2 linked regions of the Homo sapiens genome follow. The protein of the gene in region 1 interacts with the protein of each later gene in a biochemical or structural test. Each region holds a gene or a part of one and is shown in the gene's direction. Other genes may lie near its edges. The genes, in order: TNFRSF10C and CXCL14.

What was found.
Region 2: the proteins of TNFRSF10C (region 1) and CXCL14 form a complex in vitro, tested with the Homo sapiens proteins (one large-scale study listed by BioGRID).

Annotation. Positions count from the first base shown.
Region 1 is NC_000008.11:23,109,095-23,112,920, forward strand, and holds part of TNFRSF10C (tumor necrosis factor receptor superfamily member 10C precursor), read left to right. Parts: intron 1-2,625; coding exon 2,626-2,731; intron 2,732-3,826. UniProt on the Homo sapiens protein: Receptor for the cytotoxic ligand TRAIL. Lacks a cytoplasmic death domain and hence is not capable of inducing apoptosis. May protect cells against TRAIL mediated apoptosis by competing with TRAIL-R1 and R2 for binding to the ligand.
Region 2 is NC_000005.10:135,572,950-135,576,181, reverse strand, and holds part of CXCL14 (C-X-C motif chemokine 14 precursor), read left to right. Parts: intron 1-1,496; coding exon 1,497-1,610; intron 1,611-3,232. UniProt on the Homo sapiens protein: Potent chemoattractant for neutrophils, and weaker for dendritic cells. Not chemotactic for T-cells, B-cells, monocytes, natural killer cells or granulocytes. Does not inhibit proliferation of myeloid progenitors in colony formation assays.

The DNA of each region.
Region 1 (3,826 bases):
ATATACAGCTTTCAATGTTTGTATTAAAAAACTGGGGGTTAGGGAGATGGGGAGTTACTGCTGAAGGGTATGTAGTTCCTTTCTGGAGTGATAAAAATATTCTAAAATTGATTATAGTGATGATTGCATAGCTATGAGTATATTAAAAACTGCTGAAGTGTGGACTTTAAATGGGTGAATTATATGAATAATCATAATTATTAATTATGTGAATTGTGTCTCACTAAAGCTGTCAAAAAAAGAAAAAACGTGAAAATTATGGGCCGGGCACGGTGGCTCACATCTGTAATTCCAGCACTTTGGGAGGCCGAGGAGGGTGGATCACGAGGTCAGAAAATCGAGACCATCCTGGCTAACACGGTGAAACCCTGTCTCTACTAAAAATACAAAAAATTAGCCAGGCGTGGTGGCGGGCACCTGTAGTCCCAGTTACTTGGGAGGCTGAGGCAGGAGAATAGCATGAACCTGGGAGGTGGAGCTTGCAGTGAGCCGAGATTGTGCCACTGCACTCCGGCCTGGGAGACAGCGAGACTCCATCTCAAAAAAAAAAAAGAAAAAGAAAAAGAAAATTATGGCCTGAGGAGCTACATTAATCAATCATAAAATATAAGTGTAAATTTAAACCAAACAAAGTAACAGGAAGGAGCATAAATCAAAGAATACAAACCACAGAAAGAACTGAGAAAACCAACTGTGTGCGGTGGCTTACGCCTGTAATCCCAGTACTTTGGGAGGCCCAGGCAGGCAGATCACTTGAGCTCAGGAGTTAAACCACTCTGGGCAACATGGCGAAACCCCAGCTCTACAAAATATGTGAAAATTAGATGGGCGTTGTGGCACACACCTGTCTTTGGGGACTGAGGTGGCAGGACCACTTGAGCCTGGGAGGCAGAGGAGGCAAAGGTTGTAGTGAACCGAGATTACACCACTGCACTCTGCGCTCCAACATGGAGGACAGAGGGAGACCCTGTCTCCAAAAAAAAAAAAAAAAAAAAAAAAAAGACAAAATGAAAAGTTGGTCTTCTGAAAGGATTTTAAAAAACACTAATAAACCCCTCATTAAATGAGAGGGAGTAAGAGTGTGAGAGCAGAGAAAGGAGACGCAGACATCGCCTGAACCTAGAGGGACTCCAACCCGGGAAAGAATGATTTGGGAAAAGTGGGTTAGCTTCACTGTCACCAACTGCTAGTCAGGCTTTGATGTGGAAGAAAGCTACATTTTGTCTTGTTTAGATCCAGGCAGTTGAACTGAGCCCAACATAAGCAGCTTTCATTGTAACCATTTTGGTTTTGCTTAAATTAATTTCCTACTTTAAAACACTCCCAACTTAAAGAAAAGTTACAAAAACTATACAATAAAAACATTTGAAAAAATGGCTGTTGGCATGATGAAAGCTATTATTGAATTCTTTAGTGTGTACTTTCTACAAACAAGGAAATTAACATCAACACATTACCACTATCTATCCGCACTCTATTCCGATTTCTCCAGTTGTCTTCTAGTTGTCATTTATAACATAGAGATCATGGCCAGAATCCCTGAATTGCTGTTTCATCTTTTTTGTCACTCTTTGATATTTAGTGGGAGCAGCTTGACAAGGTCCTTTGTAAAGCAGTAATTAATTACTTAATGTTTGATGCTATATCCTGACTTTCTGTAAGGTTATATATATTATAACCTTCATTTGTAAAGCTGAGTATGTTTAAGTGTGTGTCTGTGTGTATTTGTGTGTGTGTGAGTGAGAGACAGAATTCACCTATTGGTCAATTAAACACTTGGTGAAACTAAATATATTAAATGCTATTTCTGCATGAAGGGCTCATATGTGTGTGGTTTTTTAAAATTCTTATAAAATCTTTTCTTTCCAACCATGGTGGCATGTGCCTCTTATCCACATTTCTTGGGAGACTGAAGCAGGAGGATCACTTCAGGCCAGGAGTTCAAGCCTATAGTAAGATATGATCACACCTGTGAATAGCCACTGCATTCCAGCCTGGGCAACATAGCAAGACTCTGTATCAAAAAAACAAAATAGCTCTTCTTGCTCCCATTATCTGGGGTAAATTTATGTTATAATATGAGAAAAGGATACATAAGTGTTTTTCTTTTTCTTTTCATTTTTTCTTTTTTTTTTTTATTTGAGATGGAGTCTCGCACTGTCACCACATTGGAGTGCAATGGCGCGATCTTGGCTCACTGCAACCTCTGCCTCTCAGGTTCAAGCTATTCTCCTGCCTCAGCCTCCTGAGTAGCTGGGATTACAGGTGTGTGCCACCACACCCAGCTAATTTTTGTATTTTTAGTAGAGACAGGGTTTCACCGTGTTGGCCAGGATGGTCTCGATCTCTTGACCTTGTGATCCACCTGCCTCAGACTTCCACATTGCTGGGATTACAAGCTTGAGCCATCGCGCTTGCCTGTATTTTTTTTTTTTTTTATAGAAAATAGCTGGCCCTAACAGGCCAAGGGACAAACACAGGTATGAAAGAATGAAAGTTTGGAGCTGGAAAAAATGTCCAAGCTCTGATGGGTTTTGTCACTTGGGGTGAAGGGAATGTGAGATGGAGCCTGGGAGGGGTGAGGTCTGGAAGTCACTCACACCCATCACTCCTTTGTCCCCACAGGTCCTAGCTTACTCTGCCACCACTGCCCGGCAGGAGGAAGTTCCCCAGCAGACAGTGGCCCCACAGCAACAGAGGCACAGCTTCAAGGGGGAGGAGTGTCCAGCAGGTGCACTCTTATTTTTAAAAATCAGTTTATTTTTAATTGACAGATAAACATTGTATGTATTTATGATGTACACCATGATGTTTTGAAATATGTACGCATTGTGGAATGGCTAAATCAAGCTAATTCACATACTTAATCATGTATTCGTGGTAAGAACACTTAAAAATCTGCTCAGCAATTTTCAGCTGTATGGATACAGAGCCCTGGGATAAGCCCTCTTTGCCCTTTTTATCTGTGGGTTCTGTAGCCTTCCTTATCTATGGGTTCTGTATCCATGGTTGCAACAAACCACAGATCAAAAATATGCGGAAGAAATAAAAATGATAATACATCAATAAAAGCAGATAAAAAGCAATGCAGTATAGCACTTATTTACATAGCATGTCTATTGCATTAGGTATTACAAGTAATCTAGAGATGATTTAAAGCATATGTGCGTGGGTTTTATGCAATACTATCCCAATTTATATCAGGGACTTGAGTATATGCAGAGTTTGTTCCATGGAATATATTCCCTGTGGATAGAAGGCAGGACTGTACAACACATTGTTTTAATAACTGTAGTCGCCATGTCACACAATACATCTCTTGAATTTATTCTCCCTGTCTAACTGAAATTTTGTATCCTTTGACTAACATCTCCCCATCCCACCATCCAACTCAAGCCCTGGTAATCACCATTCTGCTCTCCACCTCTATGAGACCAACTTTTTCTGATTCCACATATGTGAGATCATGAGGTGTTTGCCTTTCTGTGCCTGGCTTATTTCACTTAGCATAGTATCCTCCAGCTTCATCCATGCTGACACAAATGACAGAACTCCCTTCTTTTTAAAGGCTGAATAGTATTCCATTGTATCTATGTGTCACATTTTCTTTAACTTTTCATCCATCCATGGACACGTAGGTTGATTCCATGTCTTGACCATTGTAAATAATGCTCCAATGCATATGGGAGGGAAGATATCTCTTCAATATACTGACGTCATTTCCTTTGGATGTATACCCAATAGTGGGATTGCTAGATCATATAGTTGTTCTATTTTTTGTTTTTTGAGGAACCTCCATACTGTTTTCCATAATGGCTGTACTAAT
Region 2 (3,232 bases), on another chromosome or scaffold:
GCAGGCACCATCACCTGGCATCAGCAGGAAGACCCGCCCCTGCCCCAAGGAGCTTAGGCCCTAGCAGGGACCCCAGAAACCCAGAGCACGGAGAAGGGAAGAGAACAGGTTGCCTAGGAACATTATGCCCCCATTCTGGTGGCAAGATCCGATTTTCTTTCCCCATCAACTGGGAGACTGAAGTAATGGGAATCCTGTCCCTTCTAGAACTTAGCCCATATAAGCCATGACATTTTCCATTTGGTTAACAGTGGGGAACTAGCTGACCTCTGTCCCTCTCTTCTCACTCTTTCCACTCTCACTTCCAGTCTCCCCCTTTGCCCTCCAAGCCCATTCCAGCACCCCAGTCTACCATCATGGCTTGCATGGCTGTGACCCCTCAAGAAGTGGCATCCTCACCTCTCACCTTGCACTTTTCCAAATACCCTAGGTGGTCTCTTATTCCCCACAACTCCTGTCATGCCTGTGGCCTAGAGGTGCTCAGAAGTTCTGAGCAGCAGGCTTGCCTCGCCCTCCAGGCTGGAGCCCCCACAGCAAGGCTACTCTTTCCCCTTGGCCACTTCATCTTCCATGACCAATGACTAGTAACAGTAACTGTTAATTGTGCATCTACCAGGTCCTGGGTACTTTCTAAAGATTGTATCTTTTAATCATCCCAATAACCCTGTGAGATAGTCCTATTATTATACCCATTTTACAGATGGCCAAACTGGATTCAGAGAGGTTACCCAAGGTCCCACAGCCAAATTTGAGATTCAGTCCCAGGCCCTTACAGTCTGCACAACACCTGCTTCTCTACCACATGGCTAGGCTTCTGCTGGGTGTTGGGACATTGGCTGATAGAGGCCTGAGATCTTCAGGCTGTGCAGAAGAGAGGTCTTACTCTTCTGCTTAGGGGTGAGATACCTGGGACCTCCCACAAGGCCAACAAGACTTTGCCTCAGGATCAGGAGATGCCCAGCCCTGGGACAATCTGTGGTGGGTCAGAGGGAACTGGGGTTGAGGAGACAGAAATCAGAGTGTCTGCGGGGCATGTCTGAGCCTTGCCATGAGCTCCTCAAATCCAAGGACAGAGGTTTTGGCATGTGCACCTTGCTGGCATTAGCTTTCTCCACCTCCTGATCCCAGGCTCAGAGAGGCTGGGAGTCCTCTGACCTTTGTTCCCCAAAAGAGGCCTGAGCCCTGGAGACAACACACTGCATGAGGTTGGGGGTGGGAGAGACCATCCCAGACTCTCAGGACTCCCAGGGGAAAAGTGAGGGCTGCTCACTACATACAGGGTTAGGCCCTAACATGGAGTCAGAGAATAAGGGGACAACCAGAACCTTCCAAAGAGCCAGCTTGGAAGTGAGCACACAAGTCGGCTCCCTTGAGAGGAGGCAGGAAGCCACAGTCTCTCAGGGCCCTGACTTAGCCCAGGGCTACTCACAGGCCACACAAGAGGCAACATGTTATTCAGGCTCCTCAACCCTCCACCTCATCCTGCTCCGTTTCAGCATCACCACCAAGAGCGTGTCCAGGTACCGAGGTCAGGAGCACTGCCTGCACCCCAAGCTGCAGAGCACCAAGCGCTTCATCAAGTGGTACAACGCCTGGAACGAGAAGCGCAGGTACGCCCCGCCTCTACTCACCTTCCTTCCCACCAGACCCAGCTGTGGCTCTCAGGATGGGAAGGGACCCCCCCACCAGGTCATCTAGCCCCATCTAATATGTGAACACCCACCACAACATCCACAGCAAACAGATACTCAGACAATGCTTACATACCCCCAGGGACAAGGAACTCACCACTTACCAAAGCTAGCTATCCATCTCTTGTCCATTTGCAAGCATGGCAGGTTTGTCATTTTGTAAACTAAAGTCTGTCTCACTCTAATATTTGCATTATAATCTTAATTCCTCTTTTTATTTCAGTTACGTAAGTTGTTAAATGGCAGAGTGAGCACTGGCATGGCTGCCAGGGGAGCTCTGAGGACTTCAGTGGGGTGAAATGTGACCACTTAGGTGACTGTGTATGTTGGCTATAAAACTGCGCTATAAAACCATGAGGTGCTGAGGATGATCCTTGCCAGAAACATGTTTTCTTCTCCAAGGTGCCCCACTCCCTCTGCTGCCCAGAAACCTGATAAACTCCTTCCTTCGCAGGTGCTGGAAGGCACCACAGGTTTGGCTCTTTAAAATCAGAGCCACTGTTAACCAAGGCGGGCAGCAGTGTTAAGACCACCAGCACCCTGAACCAGCCCTGTACTTACTGGGCACTGTTTCCTTAAAATCAGAAGGTGGCTTCCCATCTCTGGTTTCCTGGGGTCTTATGTCTGTCCTCGGAGGGAGAATCCAGTTCCTAGCTCCCCTGTACCATGCGAAGGTAGCCTGTCCTGTCTCACTCCTCAGATACGCAGAGTCTGTTTACACATTTGCCTGCATAGCATGATCAGGAAGCACACACACACACACACACACACACACACACACGCATGCATGCACACACCATGCAGGTGACTTCCCCAGGAACTAGTGCCAGCACCCCTGCTGCAGAGGGGGATATCAAGGCTAAATGGAAGAGAGGGGTGACTTGCCTGGGAGCACAGGGCAAAGCCAGGACAGCAAACCAGGCCTCCTGGTGCTACCCCACCAGCTGCCCTCACAGGGTGGAAGGTACAGCCATAGTGGGTGCCTGCATTGCCCTCCCCTCACCTGGCCCAGCCATGCTACCCCAAGCTCAGCCCTGTGACCAGCTCTCCCAGAGCTGACACTCGGGCTCAACCCCTATACCTGAGCCTTTTTTGCTGCCTCCAAAACAGCCTCATCTGCAGTTGCTTGAAATAGAAAGTGATGAGAGCAATAAATTATTTTCTATAAATCTGCTGGGAATGAAGCCCTCTTTCTGGTCAAGCCAGGCAGCTCATGTGGCAAAGGCCAGAACTGCGCAGTCCACACTCTGTCACCCTCCAGGCCCTGTGTCATCAAAACTGGCAGAAGGCTAATCCCATGGGCAGGTTATGGAAGAGGCTGAGGGCATCTTGATCTGATTGCTGGGGGATACTCAAACCTTTAGCTCACCTTGCTTCTCCCCTCCACCTGAGCTGCAGCCTGGAAAAGGAGGCACCCACAGGTCTAAACATGGCCCTGCTTTTTTTTTTCCTGAAAATTCCAATAACAAAAGCAACGAGAGCCTCTCACTACCAGGCCTTCTCTCACTTTGCTATAAAATTAGTTCACCCCTCTTTCTTAG